3 linked regions of the Homo sapiens genome follow. The protein of the gene in region 1 purifies or fractionates together with the protein of each later gene. This does not show direct contact. Each region holds a gene or a part of one and is shown in the gene's direction. Other genes may lie near its edges.

Region 1 (3,747 bases):
AATACCTTGTTTTAAAAGGAAGGGGCAGAGCAAGTGACTCCTATCAAAATGTTACCCCAACAAAGACAACTAATGAACAAAGGGAAAGGGCAATTATGCAGGTCTGTTACAGGCAGCTAGGGGACTCCTTGCTAACCATAGGATCTCTTTGGTTGTGCCCTATAGAGGAAAAGCAGCTCCATATTCTGATCAACAATGCGGGAGTAATGATGTGTCCATATTCCAAGACAGCTGATGGCTTTGAAACCCACCTGGGAGTCAACCACCTGGGTAAGTATCTTTGGGTGACTAAAAAATGAGGTACACCCACTATCTTTTCTTTAGGAAGATGACACTGTGTAAATGTGGAGAATGTCCAGGGGCCTTCATAGAGCCTAGGAATTCCAATAGACTAGACCCATTGGCTTGTTGTTCACTGTACCTCTCCTGATCAGTCTAAAAAAGTGAGATCTTCCTACCCATACCATTAAGAAGCCCCAAATTTCAGGAAATACCAGGGAGAAGAATGTCATTCTTGGATGGGGCAGTGGCAGTACAAGGCTTGCCAGGCAGGGCCAGACCTGGGGTTATGCAGGCATCTGGGCTTGGCTGGAGGGGTCACATCTACATGATGGCCAACCAAGCCATGGGTTGGTCCACGGAGGTAGGCAATCCTTGAGAACTTGAGTACGAGGCAGGGTGGGGTTCAGCGTTCAAGGCAAAGACTTTAGGGAGGAGAGCATGGAGCATGTTTTCTGATCCTAAGCAAATGTTATCTTCCCTGACTGTTCTATCCTTCTGCCTATACACAAGTGTACCTGGGTCCCTAGTTATGCGATCATGGCCAGAGTGGGAGTTGGAAGCCAGCAGGTGGGTCAAGGGCAGAGGTACAAAGTAATATAATTAAGTATGATTGCCTTACTTGTAGTCTAGCTCTGGCTCTTGCTTTGAGGAATCCACAAACTCAGACCAAACTGACCATTAGAGTTACTCATGGCATCAAAATTGGTTCACACCCAGAAGATAGTGAGCTAACACTGAAGTCCTCTTGGCTCCCACATGCTGAGCCTGGGCTGTCATTCCACTTTCAATCTTCCCTGCTGGCTCTCCTCACAGGCCACTTCCTCCTCACCTACCTGCTCCTGGAGCGGCTAAAGGTGTCTGCCCCTGCACGGGTGGTTAATGTGTCCTCGGTGGCTCACCACATTGGCAAGATTCCCTTCCACGACCTCCAGAGCGAGAAGCGCTACAGCAGGGGTTTTGCCTATTGCCACAGCAAGCTGGCCAATGTGCTTTTTACTCGTGAGCTGGCCAAGAGGCTCCAAGGTAAGTCTGGAGAAAGAGGAATAGCAAAAATGGTCCTCAGACCAAATTAGAGGTCCACAGCAACTTGGGAAGTCAGGCTGTCAAACATGCACGTGTCAGTAATATCTCTGTGGACTAAGGAGAATGAAATTATGAATGGAATAAAAACAGAGTGCTTGCCCCCAGGGAGCTTAAAATCAAATAGGGGTTAAGAACCTCAAAAAGTTACCTTGTATTTGTGTCACATCTTATCTCTTATCTCATTTGATTTTCACAGTAGCTTTTTGCAACAGACAGAGGCTTTTTGTTTTTTTTGTTTTTTTTTTTTTGAGACTTGAGTTTCGCTCTTGTCGCCCAGGCTGGAGTGCAGTAGTGCGATCTTGGCTCACTGCGACCTCTGCCTCCTGGGTTCAAGTGATTCTCCTGCATCAGCCTCTTGAGTAGTTGGGATTACAAGCACGCAATATCACGCCTGGCTAATTTTGTATTTTTAGAAGAGACGAGCTTTCACCATGTTGTCCAGGTTGGTCTCAAACTCCTGACCTCAGGTGATCTGGCAGAAGAGGCCTTTGGTAACAGGTATTATTACTCCTAGTTTATAGAGCAGAGCTGAGGTCCAAGGAAATGGCCAGCTAAAGAGTATATGGCAGGTGAGGGCATCAGAACCGGAATGTGGGTGCTCAGCTTTAAACCTAGGGTGCTTCCTTCTGGGTGCCATTTGCTGAGGTCCACATGGTGATCTGAGCTACAGAGCTGCCACTGCCTGGACTCAGGGAGTTAGGGCTGGATTTCAGACCCCTGGGTCCAAGTTCTTGCTCTACCACATGCTAGCCGCATGTGGATGTGGATGTGGATGTGCCCCTTTAACCTCCCCTGACTTCATCTTCTCAGCTGTAAAATCAGGTCAGGCTGGTTCTTATTCCTTAATGATTCTGTGCTCTCCTGGAGCACTGGGTGAGCTGCTGGCTCTGACATCTGCGGATCTAGGGGTCCATTTGTTACAGTGAATAAGCCAGAGTTTGGGAACAATGATCTTCACTTCCAGAATGCCTACAGTAGAAGAAGACGGTAATCATAAAAATAAACAATAACTATTACAATAATAATTGAGAGGTTTATGTGTGCCATGTACTACACATCTTAACTCATTTAATACTTGCAACATTCCTGTGAGGTGGGTGCTATTATTTTCCCCCACTCTAAATATGAAAAGACAGGCACTGACAGATTAAGAAATTTGCCCAAGGAAGGTTCCTAGCTGAGCCAGGATTCAAATGCAGACAGTCCATTCCATGTTTTTAACTTTACATCAGAGTTCAGACCTTGGCCCTGCACCCTGCCAGGTATAACCTTAGGCAATTTACTTAAACTTTCTGTGACTTAGTTTTCTTTGTTGTAAATGGGTATCATAACATAATATTCTATTTTACAAGCCTCTTTAAGAATTAAATGAAATAATACATTTAAAGCATGTTGTATGGCCCTGGCACATAATTGGTACTGAAAAATAGTGACCGCACCAGGGATATCTTGTGGGGGGGGGGTGTTAATCCCCCACAATCTGCATCACCATCCCTCAATCTATACCTCATGAAATGTGCTTGCCAGGCAAATGCAGCTCAAAATAAAGTCCTACCCACCACCTTCCAATCAGATCGCTACCCCTAAACTCCTCCTTTAGAAATGATAAAGATACCACTGTCAATGATTGATACTACTCACTACATGTTGTCATGTTTATTAGTAGTACTAAAGCCACAGTATAAAAACGACATTGAAATAGAAGGACCTCGAACCAGGCACTCCTTTTGGAACATAGAAGGCTGAGAAGGCTATAGATCTTTCTGAAAGATCAATTCATTCCTGTTCAAATTCCGCCTGGCCAGGAGTGGTACCTGCTGAATCCTGGGGTTATGTTTCCTGAGTCCCTCCTTCTCACTTGTGTATTTTGCTGCAGGAGATAAGCTGTTTTCCTGGGCTCAGAGTGTGTCCCTGATCTAATTGTGCCCTCTTTGTCCCAGGCACCGGGGTCACCACCTACGCAGTGCACCCAGGCGTCGTCCGCTCTGAGCTGGTCCGGCACTCCTCCCTGCTCTGCCTGCTCTGGCGGCTCTTCTCCCCCTTTGTCAAGACGGCACGGGAGGGGGCGCAGACCAGCCTGCACTGCGCCCTGGCTGAGGGCCTGGAGCCCCTGAGTGGCAAGTACTTCAGGTGTGTGAAGGCAATGCGGTTCTCTCCACCACCTGTGTGCATGGGAGGTGCCGGACTCGCTGGGCTGTTCATCCTGAGAAGCTGAGTTTGTGCCTGATGATGCAATCCAGGTTTGGGTTGGGCCTGCAAACAGAATGCCGTTGCTTTGTTAAGGAAACTTACAGTACAAACTTATGTGTTGGGAAGAGTTGCTTTTCTGGCTTTATTTTATACTCGTGTGCCGCTTTTCCATGAAAACTTTGCAGCTTTCTG
Region 2 (3,747 bases), on another chromosome or scaffold:
GAAGAATGACAACCTGGGACCTTTCTTGTAGGTGGCTCTGAACCTAACTATTCCCCAAAGATTCCCAAGTGGTAGGAAGGAGGGGGTGCAGAGGGATATTAATCATGGTCATTAAGTCTCAAAACATTTCTACTTCAAGTGAATACATTAACCATGCTGAGGCAGTTGAACAACTGAATGCGTAGTTTTTCCTCCTTTGGTTTGGGCTCCTTGCCTGAAGTGTCTGGAGAATGGCTGACCTGGTCCTTACTGGTTTTTCTTTTGATGAGAGTCAGTCCCCACGTTGATCCTCAGCCTATTCACAGTTGCTTTTCTTTTCATTTCTTTTCTCTTTTTTTGGGAGATGGAGTCTCATTCTGTTGCCCAGGCTGGAGTGCAGGGGCACGATCATGGCTCACTGCAGCCTCGAACTCCTGGGCTCAAATGATCCTCCCACCTCAGCCTCCCAAGTAGCTGGGACTATAGGCATGCATCACCACGCCTGGCTAATTTTTTTATTTTTTGTAGAGACGAGGTTTTGCCATGTTGCCCAGGTTCACAGTTGTTTTTCTGAAGTATATTTTACCCAAAGACTTGAATTGATGTCATAAGGCCCCAAAATGAACATTTATTATTTTATTTTATTTTATTTTTTTGAGACGGAGTTTCACTCTTATTGCCCAGGCTGGAGTGCAATGGCGCCATCTCAGGTCACTGCAACCTTTGCCTCCCGGGTTCAAGCAATTCTCCTGCCTCAGCCTCCCAAAGTGCTGGGATTACAGGCATGCGCCACCATGCCTGGCTAATTTTGTATTTTTAGTAGAGACGAGGTTTCTCCATGTTGGGCTGGTTGGTCTCGAATTCCCGACCTCGGGTGATCCACCTGCCTCAGGCTCCCAAAGTGCTGGGATTACGGGCTTGAGCCACCACACCTGGCCTCAAAATGAACATCTGAAGCAACGAAGTCACAGAAAAATGCACTATTTATCTAGGTAATGGAGATGATGTCTTTTGCCAGAGAAAGCAGGCGCACGCAGATGAGAGTGTCTGGATTCCTTTTTGTCTTCATAAAGCGAATCTTGGACTGAAAAACAGTCCAAGAGCTGTTGGAGCTGCCGGGCCAGCTCTAATGAGGCGCCCAGGCAAGCACTCATGGGCCCCACAGGTACCACGCAATTGAACCCTTGTTTGTCTGATAACTTGCAGTGACGTTTATGACATGTGCTGTCTCCACATCTCTTTACCCCTTGGATTTCTCTAGGATGACTGAGGGACGTGGCTGCCTCTGGGGGCACCAGCACCTTCTGTAGCATTGTGGAACATTTCTTCCATGAACTTCTACTCTGGAGCTGGAGAGAACAGTCTGCCAAGTCTTACCTGGTTCTTCCCCATAGCCACCTTGGAATACTCTTTGAACAAGCTCTGCTAAAACCAAACCCATGACCACTGTGTTGGTGGTGGGGCCTCATGCTGTGGCTCAGGGAGGGCCCCTCCCTGCATGTGAGTCTAGCCTTCCTAGACATTACATGATGACCCTTTAAAAAAAAATTAGAGATGGAGGTCTCACTATGTTGCCCAGGCTGATCTCAAACTCCTGGACTCAAGCGATCCACCCCCCTCCACCTCCCAAGGTGTTGGGATTACAGGCGTGAGCCACTGCACCCAGCCTCATGTTGACCCTGGCCCTGGATAGCAGCTTTGTTTGTAGAGGCAGGTGGTGGGAGAGACCCTAGGACAGCCTGAGAGTAACTGGACCTGGTATTGGTGCGGAGTGGGGAATATCCCTTGTCTAAATGCAGAGCAGCTGAGAGAAGTTAGCGGGGCTCTTCCTCCGTTCTCATTGTTTCCTGCTTTCCTTCCCCACCCACCCCTTCCTCAGCACTCTGTGTTGTAGCCTGTACTATCCTGCTTCAAGCCTCCGTGTCCCTTGTACCTTCCCCCTACCTTGAGTTGCCAGTTCTTTACTCCCTCAAATGTTCCCATGCCACCTCTGGGGTTTCTGTTATCTGACATCCCTGGCTGCTTTCCTGGTAGATGCCATTCCCAGAGAGGCCAACAGCGTTCCCAGGCGTGGCTGGCTGGTCCGCATCTCTCAGACTCACTCTGCCAGGCTACAGTTTTGAGAATACCTTTTTTGTTGTTGTTTTGTACCTGGAGAACTTTTTATGAATGAGTAAATCTTCAGAAAGGAATTCCTCCACCCTTACTGGGTTATTGTCAGGTGTAAACGGCCTTTCAGCTGAGCAATGTTCCTATGAGAAGGAAGCCATTTCTCTTGGCTCATGAACACTGCCTTTTGGGTAGTATACCCACACCCAGATCTGTGAAGAGACCTGGAATTGAAGTCTCCATGTCGTCAGGACTTGGTGGCATGTGGATCTTGCTTGACTTGGGAAAAGAGAGGGTGGTGGTGAACTAATAATTATGGAGTCCCCCTAATGTGTCGAACACAATGCTAGATGATTTCCATGATAATAATTACTCATACTTGTGCTAAGCACTTGCGATATCGTACTTCTCACAACAGTCCATGAGGTACTGATTATTATTCCCATTTTCTCATGAGACTAAAGCTCAGAGCTCTAGGATAGTATACAGTGGCAAGAGGAATTTACATCCAAGCACTCAGATTTCAAAGCCCACATTCTTAACTACCGGACTATTCATATTACAGAGCAGGAAAAGGGTCTCAGACAGGTTAAGCAACCTGCCCAGAGTCACACAGCTAATGAGTAGCAGAATCAGGATTCAAACCCAGAGCTGTCAAAAGCAAACCTTATGTTCCTTCCACTGTCCCCTGCTTCCTTGCCCTTCAGAAAGGTCTTGGAAACAGGGGCCAGAGGATGTGGTAGCCACTTCACTGGTGTTCTGTGTCTGAATGGGACTTTCTCACAGGCAGGCCATGCTGGGACCTCAGCCATGGGGGTGGCCAGGGAGGTGGTTGAGCAGAAGGATAGCTGGGGACACTGACTGGGGGTAGAGTCACCCAGTGTCTTTAGACATCCTGCTGTCTAAAGCACTGTGTCCAAAGGGTATGGCACACTTATATGGACAGGTCACCATTCCAAACAAGGAGGCCCAGTGTGTCAATAGGAGAGGTCCTAAAGCAACAAAAAGGGCGGGGTGTCTTGGATGGGCTTCAGGAAGGGAAAGACCATTGTGTCTGGAGCTCAGAGAATGGGGGCTGGTGTTTGAGATGAGGCTGGAGATTGGGCATGGCATCCTCACGCATGTTAAGGAATTGGGGACTTTATCCTTAACATCCTGGAAGCCAGTGATCCCATGGAGAGTGAGAAGATCTGATCTGTGTTTCAAAGGTCACTTGACTGCCGAGCAGCTGGAGGCGAGTTGCTCCTTTAGGAGACTGCTGCAGTTGCCTGGGTGAGAGGCTAGAGGGGTCTGGTCTATAGCAGTGGCAGGGGAGATGGAAAGAAGAGAATGATTTGAGGGGCATTCGGGGGGCAAAATCAACAGGACCTGGGGGGAGACGAAGGGATCAAGAATGATGCCCAGATTCTGGGTGAGTGGCAGTGCTGTGGTGCACAAGTAGTGATGTTATGTTTCCGGGTGACCTGCTGTTTAGCAGGAGCCCAGCCTGTGGCTAAGAAGTATAGAGAACTGAAACTAGCTCCCTAGGGATGGGAAAACCAAGTGGGCTGAGGATAAGAACAGGGCCCCAGGGCTGGGTGCAGTCGCTCACGCCTGTAATCTTAGCACTTTGGGAGGCCGAGGTGGGCGGATCACTTGAGGTCAGGAGTTCGAAACCAG
Region 3 (3,747 bases), on another chromosome or scaffold:
AGCACCTGGCACGAACTGAGTAAATGAGACCTGTAATTACTCATCTTCCCCGACGTAGGGGACACCTCCAGGGAACGTGGTCATTTGTGGGGTTATTGAGGGATGCCTGCCAGGAGGAAATCAGGACATCTCCCTCCCGACCTCAGAGCCCCAGCTTCCAAGGTCCTTGCTTTTCTGTTGTTTTCTTTCCCTGATGCCCATTTTTCCCTTTTGGACTGCCACACTCTGGTATTGCAGAGGGCCGCGGGGTGAAGATTGCCCGTGCCCTGGTGGGCACCTTCATGTCAGCACTGGAGATGCCTGGCATTTCTCTCACCCTCCTGCTGGTGGATGAGCCTCTCCTGAAACTGATAGGTGAGACTTGGAACCTGGGGTCACCCAAGCCAGGGCTCCTTGTAACTGGAAGGAGCCAGGGAGACTTGGAGACCCCGTCAGGGCTGACCGTGACAATCAGGGCTCTGGAGCCTGTGAAGAAGGCTCTTCCTGGGCTTCTCCAGCCTTCTCCAGCTCTCACTGGACTAGAAGGAGTTGGTATTAGGATCCTCCTCAGAGAGGCCTGACCCTTTCCCAGGGACCCTCTCTCCATACCCCTGTATACAGTAGGCACTCAGTCCATGCTTGTCGAGGTGGACTCCCTTCCTCCAGGGCTGCTGAGAAAGCCAGGCCACCAGGGTCAGGATGGGAGGGTCCAAGCCCTGCTGAATCCCTGGCTGGACAGCCGTGTCTAAGAGAGTTATCTTGCTGCCCTTAGATGCTGAAACCACTGCAGCAGCCTGGCCTAACGTGGCTGCAGTCTCCATTACTGGGCGGAAGCGGAGCCGGGTAGCCCCTGCCGAGCCCCAGGAGGCCCCTGATTCCACTGCTGCAGGAGGTACCAACCCCTGCCTTTGGGGAAGGGACAGGCTTCCCAAAGGATGCAGGAGTATACGGTGGGGCGGGTAGGGGCCCTGGCACCCACACCTCCCACCATAGTCAAGTGTGGTTGTGAGAAGGGCCTGGTGGGCCTGTTCTTCAGCATCCTCCCTTTCTAGGCTCAGCCTCGAAGCGGATGGCGCTGGTGCTGGAACGGGTGTGCAGCACTCTCCTGGGCCTGGAGGAACACCTGAATGCCCTGGACCGGGCTGCTGGTGACGGCGACTGTGGCACCACCCACAGCCGTGCGGCCAGAGGTTGGTGCCAGGGACTTTGCCAAGTGAGGTCATTCACAAAACCTTAGCCCCCCTTCCACTTGTTTCCCTGAAGGCAGGGACCTTCCTTTTTTTTTTTTTTTTTTTTTAAGAAGGAATCTCACTCTGTCGCTAGGCTGGAGTATGCAATGGTGTGATCTCGGCTCACTGCAGTCTCCGCCCCCCGGGTTCAAGTGATTTTCCTGCCTCAGCCTCCTGACTAGCTGAGATAACAGGCATGCGCCACCACGCCTGGCTAATTGTTGTGTTTTTAGTGGAGACGGGGTCTCGCCATGTTGGCCAGGCTGGTCTCTAACTCCCCACCTCAAGCCATCCGCTCGCCCTGGCCTCCCAAAGTGCTGAGATTACAGGCATGAGCCACCACACCCGGCCGACAGGGACCTTCTTAACACCACAAATGTATGAGGTTGTTATCTTAGAATTAAATGAAATCCTTCACAGTGAATAACTTACAACTCAAGGCGAACTTATTCTGTTGTCCTTATTTTTCTCAGTTTACCCAGACCAGTGAAAAGCTCTTAACTGTCCAGCATCATTCATTCGAGAAAAAGGTATTTGGTGCCTGCCGTGGGGCAGGCACTGCTCTCAGCTGTGGATACAGTAGTGAACAGAGCAGACAGAAATCACTGCCCTCATGGCTTATGTTCTAGGTGGAAGACAGTCAACCAGATAAATCAGTAAAACACAGAGGATGTTAGCACAAAGGGCTAAGGAGAAAAAAACCAAGCCAGGGAGCAGAGTACAGAGCGTCAAGTGGAGGGCTTCGGGGCAGGCCTCACCTCCCCAGGCCCCTTTCGGTTACGCAGCCCAGCCCCTCTCCAGACTGCACACTGGATGTGGAAAGGGATCTTGGGAAGCCTTCATTCCACTTCCCTGTCGGCCTTTTCCAGCCTTCATTGGTGCTGGCTGGAAGTCTGGCAGATGGAGGGAGGATCTCTGAATTCCTCCCCATCTCTCTCTGCCTGCAGCAATCCAGGAGTGGCTGAAGGAGGGCCCACCCCCTGCCAGCCCTGCCCAGCTGCTCTCCAAGTTGTCTGTCCTGCTCCTGGAGAAGATGGGAGGCTCATCTGGGGCGGTGGGTGCCTGGGGGCTGAAGGGCTGACAGGGAGGTGGCTGGGCTGGCTGGGGTCCAGGCCAGCACCACATGCTCAGCGTTGTCATCTTCCCCAGCTCTATGGCCTGTTCCTGACTGCGGCTGCACAGCCCCTGAAGGCCAAGACCAGCCTCCCAGCCTGGTCTGCTGCCATGGATGCCGGCCTGGAAGCCATGCAGAAGTGAGCCAGAGCCCTGTGCATCAGACCAGGGGTGGGCTGGGGGAGGTGTTTGGTGACATCTGCGCCCTGCCAGGCCCTAGCCCAACCCTCAGAGTGATTCCCTTGGTTCCCTATAGTGAGCCTCTTTCACTCTCTTTCCCTGCCAGGTATGGCAAGGCTGCTCCAGGGGACAGGACTATGGTATGTACTCAGGCTGTGGCCTCAGACCTTTCTCCTTTTGGCCCTGTAAGTCTAAAGAGCACCCTCGGTTGCAGGGCCCGTGCTCAGCCCCCTTTCCTTCACCTTGTCCAGCTGGATTCTCTGTGGGCAGCGGGGCAGGAGCTCCAAGCCTGGAAGAGCCCAGGAGCTGATCTGTTACAAGTCCTGACCAAAGCAGTCAAGGTGAGTGAGGCTGGGCCCAGCCACCTGGGGAGACAGGCTTCTAGCCAGCAGACTCCTGTCTCCATGTGACCCTGAGCAAGTTAATAACCTTCCTGGACCGCAGTTTCCTTCTCTGTACAATGGAGATGAGCACCTATCTCAGAAGGTGGTTATGTGGCTAAGGAAATATGTAGAGCCCCGCACACTGCCTGGGATGTGACAGGGCCTCAGTGAATGGTGACCCTTTTCCCTGCTGGAAGTAGATGAGAAGTGACTTTCCATTTGGTGACAGAGCAGAGGGTGCTGGCAGAGCCAGGGCAAGGGCGTGCAGGGCCAGGCTGCACGGCAGAGACGTTCTGCCCATGGCAGGAAGGAGGCGGCCTGGTGATCTGCCCTTGAACCTGCTCCCACACCCCATCCCCCAGAGTGCCGAAGCTGCAGCCGAGGCCACCAAGAATATGGAAGCTGGAGCCGGAAGAGCCAGTTATATCAGCTCAGCACGGCTGGAGCAGCCAGACCCCGGGGCGGTGGCAGCTGCTGCCATCCTCCGGGCCATCTTGGAGGTCTTGCAGAGCTAGGGTGTGTGACTGCCTCCCTTGGCCTCAGCTCCTCTCACTGCTGTGCTGAGGTGGCCTTTGTCACTTCCTTCTGCCTTCCAACCCTCACCTTCCCCCGGCCTGGCCCCATTGGCCCACCCTCTAAGTTGAGCAGGAAATCCTCCACCAAGCTTCCAGAACTACAGACAGCACCCAGAGTGAGCTGGAGTGGGTCCCCATGCCTCTCCAGCATGCCCTTTCCCTTTGCAGGAGGGTGGAGTCCCTGGGTCATGCCCTCCCCTGCCAGCTCTGGGCTTCAGAGATAAGGCATTTTCCTTGTGCAGCCTTTACCTGGCAATCCTAATTTGGTTTTAAGACTCCCTGTGAAAT

Evidence for each region.
Region 2: the proteins of RDH12 (region 1) and ARPIN purify together in Homo sapiens (affinity purification with mass spectrometry; 3 studies listed by BioGRID and IntAct, with this or other methods). This does not show direct contact.
Region 3: the proteins of RDH12 (region 1) and TKFC purify together in Homo sapiens (affinity purification with mass spectrometry; 3 studies listed by BioGRID and IntAct, with this or other methods). This does not show direct contact.

What each region holds. Positions count from the first base shown.
Region 1 is NC_000014.9:67,725,886-67,729,632, forward strand, and holds part of RDH12 (retinol dehydrogenase 12), read left to right. Parts: intron 1-165; coding exon 166-270; intron 271-1,095; coding exon 1,096-1,305; intron 1,306-3,006; exon of another isoform or gene 3,007-3,305; coding exon 3,306-3,495; exon of another isoform or gene 3,496-3,747. UniProt on the Homo sapiens protein: Retinoids dehydrogenase/reductase with a clear preference for NADP. Displays high activity towards 9-cis, 11-cis and all-trans-retinal. Shows very weak activity towards 13-cis-retinol.
Region 2 is NC_000015.10:89,899,297-89,903,043, reverse strand, and holds part of ARPIN (arpin), read left to right. Parts: intron 1-1,240; coding exon 1,241-1,249; 3' UTR 1,250-3,747. UniProt on the Homo sapiens protein: Regulates actin polymerization by inhibiting the actin-nucleating activity of the Arp2/3 complex; the function is competitive with nucleation promoting factors.
Region 3 is NC_000011.10:61,343,105-61,346,851, forward strand, and holds part of TKFC (triokinase/FMN cyclase), read left to right. Parts: intron 1-237; coding exon 238-354; intron 355-751; coding exon 752-871; intron 872-1,031; coding exon 1,032-1,169; intron 1,170-2,155; coding exon 2,156-2,262; intron 2,263-2,357; coding exon 2,358-2,461; intron 2,462-2,607; coding exon 2,608-2,641; intron 2,642-2,752; coding exon 2,753-2,842; intron 2,843-3,190; coding exon of another isoform or gene 3,191-3,220; exon of another isoform or gene 3,221-3,246; coding exon 3,247-3,399; 3' UTR 3,400-3,747.